6 linked regions of the Homo sapiens genome follow. The protein of the gene in region 2 purifies or fractionates together with the protein of the main gene of each other region. This does not show direct contact. Each region holds a gene or a part of one and is shown on either strand. Other genes may lie near its edges.

Region 1 (2,807 bases), on a different chromosome or scaffold from region 2:
AGGACAAACAGGGGAGGGAAGTGGGGGAGGAGGCACAGCCCTTTACAGTTTGCAAAGAATGGTCATACAGCAGCTGTGGCAAAGTTGGGGCATGGGGACAGCTGCTAGTTACCCACCCACCCCTACTTTGCAGATGGGAAAACAGGCCTGGAGAAGGGAGGCTATTTGCCTAGTGTCACATGCTGAGTGACAGCAGAGTGGGGACCAGAACGGAGGTCTTCTGACTGTGATGTCTCCCTTTGAGTACCTACCAGGTAACAGTGTGAGCTTATTTCATCTGTACATCAGCCCCATAAGGCAGGTGCTCAACCGTATTCTCTGGATTCTAACACGGACGTGCTTGCAGATTTTAACATCTCTGAACTAGTATAATTAGCAGCACATATTTTCTTACTCGTACATAAAAAATTCATGGTATTTTTTTCTTTTTTATTGAGACAGGGTCTCACTCTATCACCCAGGCTGGAGTGAAGTGATGCCATCTCAACTCACTGCAACCTCCACCTGCCGACCTCAAGTGATCCTCCTACCTCAGCCTCCCAAGTAGCCAGGACTATAGGTGTGCACCACTGTGCCTGGCTAAGTTTTGTAATTCTTTCTTTCTTTCTTTATTGGAGACGGAGTCCTGCACTGTCACCGGGGCTGGAATGCAGTGGCACGATCTTGGCTCACTGCAACCTCGGCCTCCCGGGTTCAGGCGATTCTCCTGCCTCAGCCTCCCAAGTAGCTGGGATTACAGGCACCCACCACCACGCCCAGCTAATTTTTTGTATTTTTAGTAGAGACGGGGTTTCACCATGTTGGTCAGGCTGGTCTCGAACTCCTGATCTCAGATGATCCACCCTCCTCGACCTCCCAAAGTGCTGGGATTACAGGCGTGGGCCACTGCGCCTGGCCAAGTTTTGTATTTCTTGTAGAGATGGGGTTTCGCCATGTTGCCCACCCAGATCTTGAACTCCTGGGCTCAAGCGAGCTACCTGCCTCAGCCTCCCAAAGTGCTAGGATTACAAACATGAGCTGCCACGCCTGGCCGCATCTTTCAATCAATGGTATTAATCCTGTACAGATGAGAAGACTGATGCTCAGGGTGGTAGAACTGGGATTGGAACCTGGATGAGACAGACTACCAAAAATGGCTGCAGATTCCTCCCCTCCCTGTACACACACACCTCTGCTATGTGGCTTTGGCACTTCTCCTGGCAAGAGCTCGACTTTTTCAATCTCCATTGGCCTCAATCTGGACTGGCTTTACAACTTGCTTTAACCAACAGAAGGTGGCAAAAGCAATGTTGTAGGAGTTCTGGGTGAGTCTAGGCCTCGGGGGACCTTGCATCTTCCACCTCTACCTGCTTGGGGGTGCCCTGGGGCTAGTCTAGCCTTCCAAAGGGTGAGAGGCCACGTGGAGCAGAGATGAGCCATCCCAGGTGAGGGCCCAGACCGGCGCCGTCCAATATGACCTCATGTGGCTATTTACATTTAAATTATTAAACAAGGCCAGGCATGGTGGCTCACGCCTGTAATCCCGGCACTTTGGGAGGCCAGGGTGGGCGGATCACCTGAGGTCAGGAGTTCGAGACCAGCCTGGCCAACATGGCAAAACCCCATGTCTAATAAAAAAAATACAAAAATTAGCCAGGTGTGGTGGCACGTGCCTGTAATCCCAGCTACTGGGGACGCTGAGACAGGAGAATCACTTGAACCCAGGAGGCAAAGGTTGCAGTGAGCTGAGATTGCACCACTGCACTCCGGCCTGGGCGATAGAGCAAGACTCCATCTCAAATAAATAAATAAATTTAAGTTAATTAAACAAAATTTAATCCCAAAGTGTTGGGATTACAGGCGTGAGCCACGGCGTCCAGCCAGCAGCCACCTTTCAAGTGCTCAGTAGCTCTGCCAGGCTAGTGGCTACTGTGTTGGACAGCAGAAACCTAGAACATTTCCATCGCTGCAGAAAGTTCTGTTGGACAGTGCTGCAGAGGTAAGCAGCCGAGAGCCAGACACGTGGGTGAGGCCATCTAACTGCCTCTTGCCCCAGCTAAGTTACTAAGTGATGACCCCAAAGCAAGGTCAATAGAAGAACTGCTCAGCTGCACTTAACCCCTAAATTGCTTACCCACAGAATTATGCATCAATAAACTGGTTGTTTCGAGCCATTTTGGGGCAAGTAAGTTTGGGGGTGGTTTGTTCTGCAGCAAAGCCCATCTGAAATACAAGGTCTGAGAGCCTCCCTGCCTTTCCTGGACAGAAGTATGGTGCTGCTCAATCCTCCGGAAGCTCATGGTCTTGGCCATTAGCCTGGCCACAGTGTCTCCAACCTTCAGAACCACACTGAAGTCCTAAACCCTCCCCGATGCTTTAGGCACTCCAGGTACCCACTCTCTGGCAGAAGCCACATTGGCTAGGGAGTGCCCACCATCAAGGCAGGACTGATATGACGACAACGTGGGAGGTGGCCAGGGAAATGTGCTCCAAAGGGTGAGCAGCCAGGGAGGGCCCAGAAGAGGCACCAAGGGCTGAGGAAAGCAGGGGCAGGTATGGGCATGAGCCTCAGCATTTCCTGCCCACCAGGGAACTCTTGAGAGCCACCAATGGGCCAACAGATAGAAAGATGGTGCTGCCTTGTGGGCGACTGCGGGCCCGCTGCCCACCTCCCACCTGGACAACTGCAACAGCCCCTCCCTCGTCTCCCAGCTCCCTCAGGGCTGCCTGCAATCCTCTCCCACTCCGTACACAGCAGCCAGAGAGCTTTGTAGAGCATGAGTCTGACCAGGTTCCCACCTGCTAAGATGCTTTTTTTTTGAGACAGA
Region 2 (4,236 bases):
CCAGGAGGGAGGTGGGGGGGTCAGCCCTCCGCCCGGCCAGCTGCCCCGTCTGGGAGGTGAGGGGCGCCTCTGCCCGGCCGCCCCTACTGGGAAGTGAGGAGCCCCTTTGCCCGGCCAGCCGCCCAGTCTGGGAGGGAGGTGGGGGGGTCAGCCCCCTGCCCGGCCAGCTGCCCCGTCCGGGAGGTGAGGGGCACCTCTGCCCGGCCGCCCCTACTGGGAAGTGAGGAGCCCCTCTGCCCGGCCAGCTGCCCCGTCTGGGAGGGAGGTGGGGGGGGGTCAGCCCCCCCGCCCGGCCAGCTGCCCCGTCCGGGAGGTGAGGGGCGCCTCTGCCCGGCCGCCCCTACTGGGAAGTGAGGAGCCCCTCTGCCCAGCCACCACCCCGTCTGGGAGGTGTGCCCAACAGCTCATTGAGAACGGGCCATGATGACAATGGCGGTTTTGTGGAATAGAAAAGGGGGAAAGGTGGGGAAAAGATTGAGAAATCGGATGGTTGCTGTGTCTGTGTAGAAAGAAGTAGACATGGGAGACTTTTCATTTTGTTCTGCACTAAGAAAAATTCTTCTGCCTTGGGATCCTGTTGATCTGTGACCTTACCCCCAACCCTGTGCTCTCTGAAACATGTGCTGTGTCCACTCAGGGTTAAATGGATTAAGGGCGGTGCAAGATGTGCTTTGTTAAACAGATGCTTGAAGGCAGCATGCTCGTTAAGAGTCATCACCAATCCCTAATCTCAAGTAATCAGGGACACAAACACTGCGGAAGGCTGCAGGGTCCTCTGCCTAGGAAAACCAGAGACCTTTGTTCACTTGTTTATCTGCTGACCTTCCCTCCACTATTGTCCCATGACCCTGCCAAATCCCCCTCTGTGAGAAACAACCAAGAATTATCAATAAAAAAATAAATTAAAAAAAAAAAAAAAAAAAAAAAAAGAAAATGGTATTAATACCATCAGCTGACATTAATTAAGCACTTAGTTTAGTTTATTTATCTATCTCATTTAATCCTTATAACAGCCCAATAAGCTAGACATCATTATTCCCATTATGAAGATGAGGCAGAAGACCTAAGGAAGGATAAATAATTCGCCAAATGTCACTTAAGCACCTGGTTGGACTGCAATGATTCTAATCTAGATGCTCTTACCCACCATGCTGTTAAACTTGATTGCACTGCATCATACACTTGATAATTCAACAGTTAATGATAATAAAGTCAAATTTACATCTACAAATCATGCAAGCTTAAATTGATACTACAAGTTTATTTCAACTTAATAGCTGGGAAATACTTAGGGGGTGTTATGGGCTGAGTTGTAGTCCCCCCAAAATTCACATGAAGAAATCCTAATCCCAGCACTTCAGAATGTGACTGTATTTGGAGATAGGTTTTGAAAGAGATAATTAAGGAAAAATGAGGTCCTCAGTGTGGGCCCTAATCCAGTATGACTGGTGTCCTCATAAGAAGAAGAAATTTGGGCACAGACAAGTACAGAGGGAAGGCCATTTAAAGACACAGGGAGAAGATGGCCATCTACAAATCAAAGAGAAAGGCCTCAAAGGAAACCAACCCTGCTAACACCTTGATCTTGGACTTTTAGCCTCCAGAACTGTGGGAAAACAAATTTCTTGTTGAAGCCACCCAAGCTGTAGAACTTTGTTATGGCAGCCTAACAAACTAGTACAGTGAGGGAATTTGACAAAATTTCATTGGTTACTGGTACACTGACCTAACATGCTGTGTGGACCAACACAAATGAAACCATAAGACAATACTTCCCAAATATTTTAATTTTGAAATAGATATACTTAATGGCTGATGACCCAGTATCTTTGGTGTCCTCTAACCACATTACCATTCTATAATTTCAAATGAAATCTATACTTTAAAAACAATTAATGTCAAATTTTGTCATAATATCTGACTTTCAGGCCAACTTTTAATGTTAGTACAATTTAAAATAAAAAGTCATTAACATTTTAATGTAATACTGAATAATTCTCTGTGGAATTTATCTTTTACATTTTTTTCCTTTTAAGCAAAAAGAGATTTACAGTTTATAATGGTAAAGACTCTACTACTTCAGAATCAAAGCCAAATCAATATTACTTAATAATTCAGGGAAAATTTAGATAAAATCACTAGACAACGGTAAACTGATATTCTTATCTACTCATAAAATTATTTTTGAATTGCAAACGAACTGCTATGCGTGGCTAATTTAGGAAGAAAAATTTTTTTTTTTTTTTTGAGACTGAGTCTCGCTCTGTCACCAGGCTGGAATGCAGTGGCGTGATCTTGGCTCAATGCAACCTCCACCTCCCAGGTTCAAGCGATTCTCTGGCCTCAGCCTCTTGACTAGCTGGGACTACAGGTGTGTGCCACCACATCCAGCTAATTTTTGTATTTTTAGTAGAGACGGGGTTTCACCATGTTGGCCAGGATGGTCTCAACCTCTTGACCTCGTGATCCACCTGCCTCGGTCTCCCAAAGTGGTGGGATTACAGGCGTGAGCCACTGTGCCCAGCCAGAAAAGCATTTTTAATAGAATTTTGATAGCTCTTAACTGAGATCCTAAATCAAGGATTTAGAAATGAGGTATCATAAAGAATAGTAAGATTTTAAAGCTCTCAAAATTACATATGATACAAATAAAGATTGTAACAGTATTTAATCATTGTTTCAAACTTTATTACTTAATGAAACAGTTTCTATATACTGCTTCCAATTACTTTAATCCTTTTTTCTCATTAAATTTTTTTTGTTGTTCTTCAGTTGAGCTGAGATACTTTTAATTACTTTTTATTAACTGCTTCCAGAAACCGTAACAGGTGCAGGAATAGATTGATGATATCCAAGTAGAGGCTGATGGCAGCTAATACGTACTCTTCAGGTGACAGTTTATGCATCAGTGAGTGTGTGTCATAGATGATGAATCCACAGAAAAGAAGGGCTCCTGCAGCGGCTAAGACCAACTCCATTATCTCACTATAAAAAAAAAACTATAGGGAAGAGATTAAAGAAATATGTTTATATTTGAGAACAGTATTAACAGGACTTAACTTACTTCCTCTAATGATTTACTGCTACATTATACATTTGACAATGGTGTACAACTTTGAATACAAATGTTAAAAGCAGAAAAAGGCAAGGCAAGTCCAAACTTGCCTCTGTTGGATGGAAGGATGAATGAGTGGTTATATTCCATTAAACTAAATTACCCACTTTGAAAAACAGCATTCCACATATAAATTATTTAAAAATATATTTCGTTTTTCACAATTAAATGTGCCACTGGAGCTTGGCAGTTGTAAGCAAGGGCCTCTTTCTATGTAATTTAATTCATTTATTCATTCATCTTTTTTTCAGTCAATAATAAGGACCAACACAAGACCCTGATTTTCTAAAGGGATAATTCTATAATCATTCTATATACAAATGTTCTGGATAATTATAACTAAGTGTCCTATCATAAGAGTATCTCTTATAGCTTTTTGAGGTTATTTATATTGACACAGCCAGAATTATATTTCAAATTAACCATTATAACATAACTTACCTTCAAGAATCCTGACAGGCACAATATCCACAAAAGAGCAAACAGCCTATAAAAATACAATTTTAGTAATTTGCAATATTGTTCCTTACAAAAAAACTTTGTAAACCCATTCAACACTTTCTGAAAAAAACATCCATCTGGATTTTTTGCTGAAGAATAACTAAAATGTAAGAATTTGTAAACATACAATGAATATAATGCCCATCTTGGATCTTTTTTTTAAAGAAATTGAAAGAACAGCTATTTATTCAACATTTGTCTTTATGGTATACAAACCTAGTTAACAGTATAATTTGTGAAGTTTTGGAACATAAAATACAGATAAAAGCAGAAATATCATTACAAGTATTTTAATTCAGAGATCTATAAAAACTTTTAGAAAATATATAAACAAATGAACTAGGATTGCACTTTTAAACCAAGTAATAACAAGTTATTCTGTGAACATGTCTATCGAAGTTCACAATGTACTTTCCATTTTATTCTTATGTATTATGGAACTTAATTGATGGACACATCTGACACTGCTATAATTTTATGAGTTACAATTCAATTGTTATATATAGAGAGTATAAATTATATAAGAAAGGACATCTAAGAAGTCAGTCTTTTGTTATAAAATATGGGACTTATCAGCTGCTTCAGGTCACAGGGAATTACAGAGGCCACATTTATCCTCC
Region 3 (3,839 bases), on a different chromosome or scaffold from region 2:
GATGGCCTCGATCTCTTGACCCCGTGATCCGCCCGTCTCGGCCTCCCAAAGTGCTGGGATTACAGGCGTGAGCCACTGCGCCCAGCCTGGGGGTGATAGTTCTTATAACATGATACTGAAAAATACAGCCAGGTGTGGTGGCTCATGCCTGTAATCCCAGCACTTTGGGAGGCTGAGGACGGTGGATCACATGAGGTCAGAAGTTTGAGACCAGCCTGGCCAACATGGAGAAACCCCATCCCTACTAAAAATACAAAAATTAGCTGGGGGTGGTGGCACGCCCCTGTAATCCCAGCTATTTGGGAGGTTGAGGCAGGAGAATCCCTTGAACCTGGGAGGTGGAGGTTACAGTGAGCTGAGATAGAGCCACTGAACTCCAGCCTGGGTGACAGAGCGAGATTGTCTTAAAAAAAGAAAAGAAAAAGAGTGAAGAAAATCCGCTATCTATGCATTAATCTGTGGGCTCATTTCCTTGCAGCCTTGTGATTGCACGAGTGTTGTCTGATATCATTTGAGCAAGTTGTCAACTCTAAGGTTCTGCAACCTGTAAATGCAGTGCAGCTCCTGGGGAGGGCGTCTGTCCCCCTGGCTGGAGGCTCTCAAACAGAATGGAGACCCTCACTGTCAGACCTATTGGGAGGACTCAGGCGGTGGATGGGGGTTCAGACTAGATCATGTCCAAGGTCCTTAAAAACCACAAGGTGTATAAGATGCAGCCAAAATGATTTAAGGCAAAACCCCACAAACAAGATGGACAAAAACCCTCAAGGTGAAAAAGAAAAAAAAAAAAAAAAAAAAAAAGCTTGAACAGGTAATTAGGAAATTAAACAGCTAAATAATGTGGTTATTTATTAAAGATACATTAATAATTCTTGTAATTGATGCAGGTTTTCTTTTTTCTACAGACTACTATTATTTTATTCTTGTCTCTCTGGAAAATGAAAAATCCATTAGTTTTTCTCTTTTGCTTTTACCCAGAAATTAAAGGTTGGTAAGTGGTAATTAGCGTAGCTCCTGTCAAAGCCAGTTGCCTCATGAGGACCGACATTTGACTTAAGCTGAAATAATGGAATATGGCTAATGTAAAGTTCATTAGTCCCAGCTGCTTTCTTTGACATTCTTTTCTTCTACCACAAGAACGGGCATGCCCTGCCCTCTCTCACTCCTATTTTTAGACGTATTGCTGCGCTCCTATGTGTCTATTCTACAAGGCTGGAGGCACAGTGGTTATAGGGAAGGTAAATGGTAATGGGACAATATGTCTGTGACCACGTTCATTACACATCTGGGATAGAGCTCTGACTCTTTGATAGAGGACTCCAGCACCCCATCTGTCTGCCCCTGAGAAACGAAAGAGAACCACTCTCCACTGTCTACTATATGTTAGGTACTAGGATTTTTCTCATTATAGCACTTCATTCCTTTCTTGGGGGGGACTGGATTATTTATTTTGAGACAGGGCCTCACTCTGCCACCCAGGATGGAGTGCAGTGGCACGATCACAGCTCATTGTAGCCTCGAACTCCTGGGCTCAAGTGATCCTTCTGCCTTAGCCTCCCGAGTATCTAGGATTACAGGCATGTACCACTACACCCGGCTAATTTTTATTTTTTACATTTTTGTAGAGATGGGGTCTTGCTATGTTCCCCAGGTCGGTCTGTCGGTCATGTGGTACTTCATTTAGGCCAGGCGTGGTGGCTCACCACCTATACTCCCAGCACTTTGGGAGGCCAAGGCAGGTGGATCACTTGAGGTCAGGAGTTTGAGACCAGTCTAGCCAACATGGTGAAACCCTGTGTCTACTAAAAATACCAAAAAAAACTTAGCCGGGTGTGGTGGCGGGCACCTGTAATCCCAGCTACTCTGGAGGCTGAGGCAAGAGAATCGCCTGAACCTGGGAGATGGAGGTTGCAGTGAGCAGAGATTGTGCCACTACACTCCAGCCTGGGCAACAGAGCAAAGCCTCAAACAAAACGAAAACGAAACAAAACAAATATAGTACTTCATTTAACCCTTTCAAGCTTGGAGCCTTAGACTAACTGAGAGGTTAGACTCAAGCCGGTTTGTCTCACTCCCAAATCCACAGGACATTTTCCATTATCCACCCAGTTCAGCCGCTTGGTGGGCTTGCTTCAAGTACAGAATATTAACACTAACGCCCAGACGAGTCAACGAACGCTCTGTGTGTCTAACAGAAATAAAATATTCTGGCTGGGTGTGGTGGCTCATGCCTGTAATCCCAAAATTCTGGGAAGCTGATGTGGGAGGATTGCTTGAGGCCTGGAGTTTGAGACCAGCCTGGGTAACATGGTGAGTTTTAATGTACCCTGGATTTCCTAGGAATGTAGCTACTCTGTAAATCAAGGACAGACACGTTTACTGTTCTGGGAAATCCCATTTCCAAGGGCAACGCTGCTGACGGTGTTTGAGCTGACAATCCCCGTGCCCCATGTGCCAATCAGCCTCTGTCGGATGCACAGCGATTCCGTGTGTAAGTGCAAGCATCTGACAGTGAAACACACACCACTTTGTTGGAAATTATTTTCCTTTTTGCCCTGAAACAGTACATCTGGGGCATTATATTAATGCTTCTGTATGAGTGTAGGTAGCTTATCAGCGGTGGCTTCTATTAAAGGATAATTAAGGAGGCATTACAAAATAAGCTATAAAAAAGGAAATGTTGGGGTGAGAGCCAATGGAGGGCATTAGTAAAAGGATGCTGAGTAGAAGATCTAAGCCCTTCTTGAATCACAGGAAAAGGAAACAGTTGTTTTTGTTCTATTTAATTGTTTTCTGTACCCCCATCTTTACCCTAGGACTTATTGTGATTTTCTTTTTTTTTTTTTTTTAAAGACAGAGTCTCATTCTGTCACCCAGGCTGGAGCCCAGTGGCAGGATCTCAGCTCAGTGCAATCTCCACCTCCTGGGTTCAAGCGATTCTCATGTCTCAGCCTCCTGAGTAGCTGGGATTACAGGTGCCCACCATCACGCCTGGCTAATTTTTGTATTTTTAGTAGACTGGGTTTTGTCACGTTGGCCAGGCTGGTCTCAAACTCCTGACCTCAGGTGATCCATCTGCCTTGGCCTCCCAAAGTGCTGGGACTGCAGGTGTGAGCCACTGCGCCCGGCCTATTGTGACATATTGTGATATTTCTTTCTTTTTTGTGTGACAGTGTCTCACTCTGTTGCAGGCTGGAGTACAGTGGCACAATTTCGGCTCACCTCCACCTCCACTTCCTGGGTTCAAGCAATTCTCATGCCTCAGCCTCCCAAGTAACTGGGACTACAGGCGTGTACCACTACACCCGGCTAATTTTTTATAATTTCAGTAGAGACGGGGTTTCACCATGTTGGCTAGGCTGGTCTCGAACTCCTGACCTCAGGTGATCCGCCCACCTTGGCCTCCCAAAATGCTGGGATTACAGGTGTGAGCCACTGCGCCCGGCCTATTGTGATATTTCTTTACTTAATAACTAGCAGATGAATCTCTTAACAGTATTCTGTTTTCCTCTAAGCATGCATAAAAAGTGGTCAAATAAGTCCATGATGACTCATCACCTTTTCCCTGCAAGGAGTGTACTGTAGATTACCAAACCTGCAGAAGCCGTCTGTGTGGAGACAGGAGGAGGACAAACCAGGCTTGCTCTGCTTCACACCCAGAGACCTGGAGCCACAGCATGTGGAAATTGCTTTCATGACCTTTTATACCCCCTGCTGATAAAGCAATTAGAAAACTGAAGAGTTTCACGGTGGTGAGATAGAATTTCACAATACTGAGTGAGATATTAGCAATGGACTCTCCGTATGTCCCTATGGTCTACAAGCTTAATATGTATCTT
Region 4 (4,085 bases), on a different chromosome or scaffold from region 2:
GCACTTTGGGAGACCAAGGCAGACAGATCACTTGAGGTCAGGAGTTCAAGACTAGTCTGATGAACATGGTGAAACCCCATCTCTACTAAAAATACAAAAAACTAGCCAGGAGTGGTGACAGGCGCCTGTAATCCCAGCTACTGGGGAGGCTGAGGCAGGAGAGCTGCTTGAACCCAGGAGGCGGAGGTTGCAGTGAGCCGAGATCGCGCCATTGCACTCCAGCCTAGGTGACAGAATGAAACTCCATTTCAAAAAAAAAACAAAAAAAAAAACCATTGCTTGAAAAATGCTCATAGCCTCATTGCTTTCCTTTCTCTGAGAACTTGAAGGAACTTTGTTTTCCCAGAGGAAAGCTGAGCAACTCAGCGATCATGTGTGCTGTCTGGAGGCTGGAGATAAAGCTGTGTGTGGCATGGGACATGACAACGATGGAGGGGTTAACATGAGAGCCAGTGGGCTTTCAAAGGCCACGAGTGACAGCCTCTGGATTCCAAAGCAGCTCATTCTGACTTCGGGAGCACTCAGGAGGGATCAGGACCCATGTCTAGCTTACTTACCTCTTTGCAGCATCAGGAGACTTAGCTACAATGACTGCATTTCTGTAATTTGGAATCTAGATTTGAAGGAAAAATAGAAAATACTGAAAAGTTATCAGAAAATAACACCTGGATGCTGGTATTCAAGTTTTCCCTCTTATAATGATCCAAACTAGTCATCAAATATGCTAGAATTTTAGTCACAAGTTTTAGATTTTTCAATATTTATCAATTAACATCACTGGAAAAAGCACTCCTACGTCAAGAATTTTTTAAAAATAATTCTTAAAACATTCATTTTAGAAAACATAAGCAAATTGCTAAAGATACGTAGAAAAAAAATCTGTTTTTAGTGTCTTTTAAAGCTATGATCGTCCACGACTAAAGCTGACCCTGTCTGCTGCCTCAGGCATTGTGACTTAAGGGAGAGCTCATTTGATGTGCCTTCCAGTAACGAAATCTGATACCAGAGAAAAACTAAATAAGATCTCTTTTGAGGACAATGGGGTGTTTGCTGGTGGTTCCTCACTTCTTCCTGGATATACTGAAGCAGGAAAGGTGAGGCTCTAAGGTTGTCCACAGGAAAGCTGAAAAAGCCTTGTATTTCCTTTTGATGAAGATCCATAGTGATAATGTGAGTTAAACCTGAAATTTTAAAACAAAAAATTACAAAGTTCACCCCTACAGGTAAATGGCTACAGTGGACCTAAACTAGATGCTCAACTCCTGCTTCCTACCAGCAGACTGAAGACGGGGTACTGTGATTAAGCACTGCAGTCACAGGCTTGATTGTTAACCTTAATAAAGCCTTAATGTAGAGAAGGCTACAACCTTCCACATGGACAAAGAACTAAAGCTAAGAAAGTGGGAATTATTGACTTTTGGCTTGGTCCAGAAAATTGAGAAAAGAATAATGTGGCAGAAGCAAAAATATGAATATGGAATTAATACCGAAGAGATGGAAAAAACAGTAAGGCCTTGATTACAGAATCTTAAAAGAAAGGATAAAGAACTGTAGCGAAGGCAAAAAGTAGCAAGAACACAAACGCAAAGTAATATACATATTAGAAGAAAAGAAACTCATATAACACAAAGATATTGAAGCTTAGAATAATTTCTGTATGTAACAAAGAATGTTTCAAGTATTCTTATAGAAAAACAATGAAGAGATACTCTTATAATCAAGAGTACTGAAGAGGAAAAGGTACATATATATAAACACATTGCAAATGGTCAAAGGTCACAGCAAAACTTCCAGGGTGTAGAACCAGTATTACTTGTTCTTTCCAGAAACACTATAGTTTTTTGGAGAGGATGAAATTCACATACAGTTGACCATCTGGATCTATGGGTTCCACGTGTGGATTCAACGAAACACAGACTGAAAAGGTAGTTAGGCCTACAATGGTTGTGTCTGTACTGAGCAGGTATGAAACTTTTTTCTCATCATTATTCCCTAAACAAGACAGCATAACAACAATTTATATAGTGTTTATATGGTATTAGGTATTTATAAATAATCTACAGATGACTGTGTTGGTTATATGCAAATACTATGGCATTTTATATGGAAGACTTGAGTATCTTTGGGTTTTTGTATCTGCTGAGGAGCCGGGGAAGCGGGAGATGGGTTCCTGGAACCAATCCTATAAGGACATTGAGGGAGGACCATACATTTCTTTCCGAGGACCCAAATATACGTTAAAGTTTTAGAACAGACATCAGATGAATAGAAACCCAATTGTAAAATATTACATTGATTTACAGGCCAGAAAGCGTGCCCCCGCCACACAAGGAGAATAAAGCAATGAAAATGAGCCACTATGTAGAAAGGCAAGGGTGGGGGAGAGGGAGTAAAAGAAAATCCAGCTTGAATACTATGAACAAAAATGGAATTTAGCTAACAAAGCAGATATAGAAATCTAGACCTGAAGATCAAAAGATCACATAAGAATGCCAAGACTGCCAGCTAAGAATTTAGCGATGACAAGATGAAATAGAAAATATGTGACAGATGACAGAGAAGAGAAGACACTAAAGCAATGGTATTCTAAAGTAGGACAAAGCGAATAAGGGAAAAAAAAGAATTTCTAACCGAGCTCACATATCCTTAGCCAAAACTGTTCAAAAGGAAACAAACACTCAGATCCCAGATTGGATATCTGAGGTATGAGCTAAGTCCAACTAGGAAAGAGCCCTAAAGGATCATGCTGGAACCCCAGGGCCCCCGCGCACACTCACCTGCTTTCGCCAGCATGGATGCTAGCAGCTTGCACACAATGGAACCCCTCTTCCTCATCTTGCTCTGCTTGCTGTAGGGGAAGTAGGGGATGACCCCAATAATGTTCCTGGCACAGGCAGTCTTCAGTGCGTAAGCCATGATGAGCAACTCCATCACAGCTGTATTCACATCTCTGAAACAGTCAAAGTTTGTATTTGGGGATTAATTCCATGTATCAACCCTAGAAAAGATCTTGACTTTATCAACTTAACATGGGCTGCCCAGATGGGTGTTGTGGGAATTTTACCATCACACTAGCTTACAATGGCACCTCATGAAGGCAGGGGAAGCTTTCTGACTTTTTGTAGCTGAGTAAGCCCTAGCTTTCATCTGAGGTTACTCCTATTCACAGCACAGTTAACCCACCCTCACATTTGCCTGGGTCTCCTGTGTCATACCCCGTTACTGCAGTGACATCTGAAGCAACTGCTGGTGACCAGAGTTACCCAACACCTGCTGGCAGCCTCCCAGGGATTTGGGCTTAGGCCAGCTTGAATGCCAAGGGAAACCCAACTGCCCTTCCATTTAGCTGCCATTAACAGAAAGATTTGGTCTCTTTCCATTGAGTGTGGGGAGGTCTTGGAATATAATTTTTTTTTTTTTTTTTTGAGACGGAGTCTCGCTGTCGCCCAGGTTGGAGTGCAGTGGCGCGATCTCAGCTCACTGCAGGCTCCGCCCCCCGAGGTTCACGCCATTCTCCTGCCTCAGCCTCCCGAGTAGCTGGGACTACAGGCGCCCGCCACCTCGCCCGGCTAATTTTTTGTATTTTTAGTAGAGACGGGGTTTCACCATGTTAGCCAGGATGGTCTTCATCTCCTGACCTTTTGAGATGAAGTCTCACTCTGTCGCCCAGGCTGGACTGCAGTGGTGTGATCTCAGTTCACTGCAACCTCCGCCTCCCAGGTTCAGGCAATTCTCCTGGCTCATCCTCCCGAGTAACTGGGATTATAGGCGTGCACCACCACACGTGGCTAATTTTGTATTTTTAGTAGAAACGGGGTTTCTCCATGTTGGTCAGGCTGGTCTCGAACTCCCGACCTTAGGTGATCCGCCCACCTCGGCCTCCCAAAGTGCTGGGATTACAGGCATGACCCACTATACCCAGCTGGAACTTAATTTTCGAAAACCTCCCTGGAGGCTGGACGCAGCCCAGCCAATATGGTGAAACCTTGTCTCTACTAAAAATACAAAAATTAGCCAGGTGTGGTGGCACGTGCCTGTAGTCCCAGCTACTGGGGAGGCTGAGGCAGGAGAATCTCTTGAACCTG
Region 5 (4,085 bases), on a different chromosome or scaffold from region 2:
CTGTCCCAAAAGAATTCTCATATGGACTTTTACATTTCTGAATGATTTAATTCTACTGTCTAAGAAGTGACAAGAAAAAGTCTGTATTAAAGAATCAATACTTACCTAAAAATATCATTATAAGATAAATCTGAAGAAAAAAGGAAAATCTAACTTTGATTTTCACTGGATATGGCAATGTGAAACTGAATCGTCCGGTCTCATTGAATATTGGAATGGACTGAATCACTGAGACAGCTGAAAACAGAAACAAGAACTTGTTAGAAGCAAATGAAACAGTCACATTTAATGACAGGAACTTCCAGTCCTAGTACTCTAAAGTTTCAGTTCTGGGTGTGCTGGAAAGGCTTTCTCCTCCCTTTGTACAGAAAGCTCATGCCTCTCCTTTTTTTCCCCTACTTTTCTAAGAGATCAGCCTCCAACCTGTCAACAGAGAGACAGATGAGGAAGTCATGGTAGTGGGCTTCTTCTATTCTATAAAATGGAGAGGAAAATCCCTAGCTGACTTATGTATGAGATGTTTGTCAGAATAAAATAAAGTCATCAGTAAGAACCCCCTTTGGAATACTAAAAGCATCATACAAATGGGAAGCATGCAGGACATAACCACCTGGCTTTCCAATGTTACAAAATGAGCTACTTTTCTCGAACAGTCTGGGTACCAGGAGTATTATGGAAGGAAGCCCATGGAAAGAAATCCCTGAAAAATCCAACATTTCCATTTATCGGACTAAGGCCGGGGAAGAAAGGACTGGTCTCTCAGCCTCTGGGTACCCCCTGGAGCTAAGCTATGAAAGCTAAGAGTCCCTGAGAGTACCTTCCGCCAAACATCCCAGTGGATATAAGGGAATCCACAGAGTGTAACGAAGCCATGTGAGCACCTTCCAATCCATGTCAATGCACGTCAGCATGTAGAAAGAGTACCTATTGAAAATAAATGATTCCAATGTGAAAAGCCACTTCAGGTTCCGAATGCAACCTTAGAATATCATTTAAATAGAAGAATTCTATTTCTCAGCCACACATGGCTTCTTCAGAACAGAATTATAACGCTGGCTATCAACCCATAAACTCCTGCCACACTGCGCCCTAAATTTTCAAAGGATCTGAACGCTCTTTAATGGCAGACTAAGTTTAGGTCTCAAAGGAACCCTCTTTATTCGGTAAACGGACTGGATACTCAGATGTTTTTTGGCTTTATTCCTAGTGCTGATATACATTCCCGGTGGGTAAGGATATTAGATACTTTATTTCTGGATAAGTGAGTTGTTACCAAAATTAAAGTATACAGAAGACCTCTAATCTAGAATCAGACATATGCTATTTTAAAAGACATCCCTTGAGAAAATAAATGTTCCTTCTCAAACAGTAAACATTGCATTAAGGACCCATAATCTGATCCTTTTATAGCTCATAAGTGTGATAACTGGATTTTCACTCTCCTGTGTGAGATGTGCTTCCCTCAAACCTTGTTACATCAGCACATTACGTGTCTGATTTGAAAAACATAGGACCTATAATCTGTTTTACCTTTGTATTAAGGCTATTAGAGGGTACACTGGGTGCCATGGGACACAGACCATGGTTAAGACACAATTTAAGGCTGCTATGGCCTGTTCTCTCTCTCAACTAGCAACTTTGTCAAAATACCACCAAACCTGGAGCTGAGAAGTTCATTTGCAAAATCCTTGCTCCAGCTGACTGAAAGGGAAGACATATGGAGTGTGTATGGTCTGGTAAAGAAGAATACATCTACTTTAACTAGATCCATTTCTTAAAAGATATTTATGCTACTAACAACCGAGAACGGGAAAATTGGGTTAGAGGCCATTTCAAACTTCAATAATCTTGTGGTATAAGATTCATTTCTATCATCCCTTGTAGAAATTTAGTCTTAAATTAGTTCTATCCAACCTGGATTGCTCCTTCAACCTCCTGTTTCTTCAGCCCTTTCAAGAATTTTTCCATGTGGATGGGTCCTCTCTTTCCAAGACTGCAAGATCCTGAAGTCATGGTAAGATGAGTCTTCCCTTTCTCTGGTTCTCCTCTTCTGCTCCCTAGTATCCAGTCTGGTATTATGATCCAATGACGGCTTTAAAAAAATCTGTCTCAACTTTGCAGAGCACATAGGTGCAACCAGAATTCTCCACATATGTAATCTTAGTCCCAAACCAAATGAGACTCTGGCTAAGATAACAACTCCCTCAAGAACAGAGCTGCTGCAAACAGGGAGCAGCATTCAAACACCATCCTGGCATTTCTACCCACCTGAAAATTTCAATTGCACTCCACAAATAAAACACAAAGAAAACCACAGCTTTGTTCTGCATTTCTTCCATGGTGCCAAAGATGATAAACAAAATAAAATTTCTTCCAAGAAGCTATTAGAAAGACCCAAAAGAGAGAAAAAAGTTAATAAAATATATGTAAAGTTATAGAAATGTGTTATCTGAAATCTAACCCCACTAAATGCAAGGCAAATAGAAAAGATTGACCTCGACCAGTTTAATCCTGCTCCAGTTCTGGAACAAGTAAAGTGCCCAAACCAGTCTTTGTGACTAGACAGGTACAGTATTTTGTGTAACTATATCATAAATCATTTCTTTAAAATACAGACACATGTTCAAACGCAGTCTAAAGAATACTGCCAAATAAACATTTGAGTTTATATAACCCAAGTTAAGAAATAGAGCACTACAAACGTGGGACCCCTATAAATAACTACTATCATGTGTTAATAATTCCATGGCTTTTCTTTTTTATCGAGACGGGGTCTCGCTCCGTCACCCGGGCTGGAGTGCAGTGGTGCAATCATGGCTCACTGCAGCCTTGAACTTCTGGGCTCAAGCAATCCTCCCACTTCAGCCTCTCAAGTAGCTGGGATCACAGGTGTGTGTACTACCACACTGGCTAATTTTATTTTTTTGTAGAGACGGGGTCTCACTGTGTTGGCCAAGCTTGCTCAAACTCTTGGGCTCAAGTGATCCTCTTGCGTCAGCCTCCCAGAGTGCTGGGATTATAGGCATGAGCCACTGTGCCTGGCCCATGGCTTTTCTTTATGAATTACTGCTTGTGTATGTATTCCTGAACAGTATATTGTTTCATTTTGCCTGTTTTAAAACTTTCTGAAATCATTCTATATGTATCATTCTGTGACTACTTCTTACTCAGAGTTACGGGCCAGAGACTCATCTATGTTTTTTGGTCTTGTTTTTTTTTTTTTTGAGACAGAGTCTCGCTCTGTCGTCCAGGCTGGAGTGCAGTGGCACGATCTTGGCTCACTGCAAGCTCCGCCTCCCGGGTTCATGCCATTCTCCTGCCTCAGCCTCCCGAGTAGCTGGGACTACAGGCGCCCGCCACCACGCTCAGCTAATTTTTTCTATTTTTTAGTAGAGACGGGGTTTCACCATGTTAGCCAGGATGGTCTCGATCTCCTGACCTTGTGATCCACCCGCCTCGGCCTCCCAAAGTGCTGGGATTACAGGCATGAGCCACCGCGCCCGGCCAAGACTCATCTATGTTGATGCATGTGGCTATAGTCCACTCATTTTCACGTGGCAAGACATTCCAATATATGATAGACATTCTATTCTTCATAGATATCTGGGTTGTCTGTTTCTGGGTTTTATTCTGTTCCCGTGGTCTGTGTGACTATCTTTGTACCATACAACGTGGTATTAGCTACTAAATCTTTATACTGTCTTGATTTTTTATAGGGTAAGTCCCCAATTTGAGCTCGTCTTTAAAGAATATTCTCGACCTTTTGCTTTTTTCTTTTTCCCATTTTAAAAATTGTGGTAAAATACACATAATGGCTGGGTGCGGTGGCTCATGCCTGTAATCCCAGCACTTTGGGAGGCCGAGGCTGGCAGATCATTTGAGGTCAGGAGTTCAAGACCAGACTGGACAACATGGTGAAACCCCATCTCTATTAAAAATACAAAAATTAGCCAGGCGTGGTGGCAGATGCCTGTAGTCCCAGCTACTCGGGAGGCTGAGGTAGGAGAATCGCTTGAACGTGGGAGGCCGAGGTTGCAGTGAGCCAAGGTCACACCACTGCACTCCAGCCTGGGTGACAGTGAAAC
Region 6 (4,085 bases), on a different chromosome or scaffold from region 2:
TCTTTCATTAAGGTAAAAAATACAATAATAATTTTTAATGAAATCCTGGAAAATTCATACAAATAAAATTAAAAGCCTCCAATGGGGTATAATCCAGCAATATCCTAGGCAAATGCCTCCTGAAGAACAACAGCTTTTTTAAAACATCACTGTTTATCATTCAAAATTCAGACGTCTCCTATCTTTGGCTATTTTTATCTCTTCAAACTTTACTCCTAAAATTGCACTAGGAAAGCGTTCCTTATTGGAATCATAATGGGAGCAAAGCTGAAAATGTTTCTTTAGAAACATCTAAGGAAATTACTTAGACCCAGATACTTATAAGTGACTATAACAAGCCTTTATCCTGTTTTACATCAGTTTTAACGGGAATAAAAAGTAAAAACACATTTATTAGTGTTTCACATAGCTGCCATGATGGCAACGTGACTGTGACTTGCATAAATAATACACTCAAGGACATTCCACACTCCTTGGTGGTTCCAGCAATGCGATTTACTAAATAAAAAAGTGACTATTCCCATGAAAGAAAGCATCAAAAACTAGTTTTGAGAAAGAAGATGAAAGGCTCAATCTCTAACTCCTGGATGCCAGGAAGCAGAGTTTTTCAGAATCAAAAACAAATTAAGAGCTCACAGCCCCACCCCTCAGGGGTCACATAAGTTGGTACTGTTGCTTGTAACTAATTCATGATTTTAGCCTTTTCTTTACTCAAAATTAAAACTAAGGACATAACACTCTTCAAAAATACACATACCCTGAGACAGATCATTACCAGAATCTACACAGGGCTTTGCTATTTAGGTACAGTTAGTACAATTCATATTTAAAGTAATTTCATAAAAATAACAACTGTTCCAATCTTACAAGTTTCGTTTCCTCCTATCATGGTCACCAAAGCAATCTCTATTGTTAGGATTCTTCATTGCTTGAAGGTAGAAACTGCTTAGTAAAATTCTCCAGCTCATTTTCAAGTTGAACAGCTTTATTTCTAATTAAAAAAATAAAACACCAATCTAATTACTATAAAGGTCAAGGAGAAAAATGCATTCCATCCATTATTAAAAGACAAAAACTTTAATAATAAACAATGAAGAGCATAACAGACAGTGGAATCATACCTTACACGGGATATCCTAAGTTACCTAGAGTCATGATTATGCTTGCAAATTCCCTTTAAATAATGCACAAAGTACACAGTGTTTCTTATGGACATACAAGGAAAGTAGCAGATGTTACAGCGGCAATGGCATACCAAAAATATTTCCTTTAAACACTAGATTCATCCTTGATGCAGCCAAATGCCCACAAGAGAGGAAAACTGGAACTAAAACTGACAGAAAAACAGATTTGTTTCCCACTCTCACACTATGCCAGGGCACATATTCATTGAGTGGGCTCTCTCTCTCCATTATGGACGGGGAGGGTCTTGTTTTACTTTATTCCTGTGTGCATATGCTTCAGGTCATACAAGTATACATCAGCTCTGAACTCTACTGTATATATTTCTTGAGGTAGCTCTCCTGCAGCGTTAGCACATTAAATTCTATCCAAATGGCTGAGCCTAATCTAGTAAAAAATGGAAATTCCAAATATTATGGTATTTGTTTTTTTTAACTTTTTTCTATTAGAAAAATGATTAGCAGACCAAAAATATTCATACTTATTCAAGCCAGTCTTGCCCAAATCAGAAAGCTACATGACTAATGCCAATAATCTATTTTATCATTTATTATAACAAAATGAAATACTATTTAAAAACTTACCTAGTATTCCTCTTTCAAAAGCTGAATAAATCAAAACCAAAAAACCATAAAAACTTACCTAGGTTAAGACAAAAAACCAATTTCTACTGCACAGTTTCACCACATTTGAAAGGTATATATGGGATGAGCTGACTTAAAATAGGAGCAATCTAATACATACAATTCACATGGGTGGGTGAGGTTGGAAATATCTAAGTGATAGGCAGTCATCTTTTCCAGAGATTTTGAAACTAAGGTACAATGAACACGTGTTGTTGGTCAGATGAAGACACTATGGATGGATAATCACTACTATGGATGTTTTAAGTACATGCCCCAAAATCCAGGTCACAAAGACAGTCCCTCCAATTTGTAAACATTGACTACTAAGCTGTTCTTACACAGGCAATTTTGTGTAGCATGTGTCCTAGAAGTAACAGCAGGGACTAAATGAGGTTTAATGGTTCTTCCAAGACATTCTGACAAGCCAGCTAATGGGTAAGCAAAAGTAAGAAAGCTGAAAGTTAAGTTCTTAAGCACTGAGTAAGAATTTCCAACTACAGACCGAATGGTGACACTTTCAGTCTTGTCCCCAAAAGCAAATTTTATTAGACCCTAAATAATATATAATGAATCATATCAAACCAGAAATCCACATTTTATCAGGACATCTTACTTTTATGATTTAAGTATACATAATCAATAGTCCCCCATGAAAACAGAAGTTATGGGTCTTGGACATACACAACTAAAAATTCACTTTTAATTATACAACTTCTGTTCTGAAAAGGGAATAATATAGCCTAATGAAGAGTAAATTTCGATCTATAAAGTCCCTTTCAATTCAGATTTGTTTTCTTGTTGCAATTAGCCTTCAGTGAAACTGCAAACCACATGGAATTAAATATGGAAGATTTTCATTTAAACCTTCGGTGAAACTGCAAACCACATGGAATTAAATATGGAAGATTTTCATTTAAACCAACACAAAAAGCTATTAGGAATGAATACAAATTCATTAATAATTTTACATATTTTGTAATGAGACCAGTAAATGTTCAAATTATTGAGAAGAAAGGTTTAAATACCTTAAGAGCTTTGAATTGTTTTGTATTTTCTCCAACTGATCTATTTCTTTGGGTAATCTAGCAATTTCTTCTTCCAGCTGTTTTTGAGTAATATCAACTTGTTGGCACAGGCGAGCAAAAGTGGTAGCTATTTGTCTTAAAATAAAAATTTAGAAGCAGTCATAAATGTCTTCAAAAATGAATAAGCTTTAATTTAAAGCTCACATAAAAAGAAGAACACAAGTTTTAAAAAACTTCTAAACTATAGGGAATCAGAACACTAAGAATGATAAGAGGGAAGATATGGCACTAGTGGGCTGCATTTTATCCTGGCTCAAGAGACGATATTACCTCTGCTATATGGCTGTGAACATGAATAAGCTACATAAAGACAAAAGATGGGTGTGTTTCTTCAGAAGCACAATAAACTTTACTCATGCTTGGGGCCCTGCGCAAAGTAAGAAATTATCAAGAACAGAAAAAAAATTCCATGCACTTTTGTGACATAGGCAAAAATACTTTATAGCAAAATTTAACAATATTTCTAGAATCAAAGGGTTATATTTGAGGGCTAATTCATATATTAACTTTGGCAAACATTATATTTTTAAATGGGAGCATACCTCTTCCCATTCCACCAAATCTCAGACAGATGAAGCATGTGTCATTCTTTTAATATTTTGTTAAATATTAAATATTTACTTAGTTTATTTTAACTGAGAAATTATTTGAGGTTGCCTCCATTAATGTGCAAAGTCTTCTAAGAAAGAGGATCAAGTCGAGTTTTTATTTCCCATAACCCCTAGCATGAACTGCTGCGTGGGAGGCAATTAATAAATGTTTGATAATCAATGCAGGGAAAGCTACATTAACTTTGTTTTTATTTATATGAATTTCAGCTGATTCTTTGGATGTCCAAGTATCTTAACTAGATGAAAACTCATCCTTAATATAAATTAAAACTATCAGATAAAATAGAGGCTCAAAAAACTTGGTCAATGAATGAATGAATAAATGAACAAATTCCTCAAATTTGCAGTCTCCTGGTAACCATTCTCTACAATTATTAACTGTTAGTTCAGACTTTGATTTTGTATCTGCAACAGTTTACCGTTCCTGCAATTCCTGTCTCTTGAGTCTAAACAATTTCAAATACTACTGCAAAGTTATCTGTTCTAGAACTAAGTGTTGACATCACTCTCGGAATTCCTAATTATCCAAACCCCAATCTACACATACAGACAAGGCCACATCCTGCTATGAAGTCTACACC

What was found.
Region 1: the proteins of TMBIM4 (region 2) and SLC27A4 purify together in Homo sapiens (affinity purification with mass spectrometry; one large-scale study listed by BioGRID and IntAct). This does not show direct contact.
Region 3: the proteins of TMBIM4 (region 2) and DFFA purify together in Homo sapiens (affinity purification with mass spectrometry; one large-scale study listed by BioGRID and IntAct). This does not show direct contact.
Region 4: the proteins of TMBIM4 (region 2) and PRPSAP1 purify together in Homo sapiens (affinity purification with mass spectrometry; one large-scale study listed by BioGRID and IntAct). This does not show direct contact.
Region 5: the proteins of TMBIM4 (region 2) and HACD3 purify together in Homo sapiens (co-immunoprecipitation; one large-scale study listed by IntAct). This does not show direct contact.
Region 6: the proteins of TMBIM4 (region 2) and MFN1 purify together in Homo sapiens (co-immunoprecipitation; one large-scale study listed by IntAct). This does not show direct contact.

The regions. Positions count from the first base shown.
Region 1 is NC_000009.12:128,357,432-128,360,238, reverse strand, and holds part of SLC27A4 (long-chain fatty acid transport protein 4), read right to left. Parts: intron 1-2,807. UniProt on the Homo sapiens protein: Mediates the levels of long-chain fatty acids (LCFA) in the cell by facilitating their transport across cell membranes. Appears to be the principal fatty acid transporter in small intestinal enterocytes.
Region 2 is NC_000012.12:66,135,168-66,139,403, forward strand, and holds the end of TMBIM4 (protein lifeguard 4), read right to left. Parts: intron 3,603-4,236; coding exon 3,557-3,602; intron 3,000-3,556; coding exon 2,793-2,999; 3' UTR 679-2,792; downstream 1-678.
Region 3 is NC_000001.11:10,455,707-10,459,545, forward strand, and holds the end of DFFA (DNA fragmentation factor subunit alpha), read right to left. Parts: 3' UTR 816-3,839; downstream 1-815. UniProt on the Homo sapiens protein: Inhibitor of the caspase-activated DNase (DFF40).
Region 4 is NC_000017.11:76,329,486-76,333,570, forward strand, and holds part of PRPSAP1 (phosphoribosyl pyrophosphate synthase-associated protein 1), read right to left. Parts: intron 2,951-4,085; coding exon 2,778-2,950; intron 1,182-2,777; coding exon 1,066-1,181; intron 614-1,065; coding exon 558-613; intron 1-557. UniProt on the Homo sapiens protein: Seems to play a negative regulatory role in 5-phosphoribose 1-diphosphate synthesis.
Region 5 is NC_000015.10:65,568,387-65,572,471, reverse strand, and holds part of HACD3 (very-long-chain (3R)-3-hydroxyacyl-CoA dehydratase 3), read right to left. Parts: intron 2,382-4,085; coding exon 2,269-2,381; intron 1,500-2,268; exon of another isoform or gene 1,399-1,499; intron 925-1,398; coding exon 818-924; intron 238-817; coding exon 106-237; intron 1-105. UniProt on the Homo sapiens protein: Catalyzes the third of the four reactions of the long-chain fatty acids elongation cycle. This endoplasmic reticulum-bound enzymatic process, allows the addition of two carbons to the chain of long- and very long-chain fatty acids/VLCFAs per cycle.
Region 6 is NC_000003.12:179,388,887-179,392,971, reverse strand, and holds part of MFN1 (mitofusin-1), read right to left. Parts: intron 2,969-4,085; coding exon 2,834-2,968; intron 992-2,833; coding exon 913-991; 3' UTR 1-912. UniProt on the Homo sapiens protein: Mitochondrial outer membrane GTPase that mediates mitochondrial clustering and fusion. Membrane clustering requires GTPase activity. It may involve a major rearrangement of the coiled coil domains.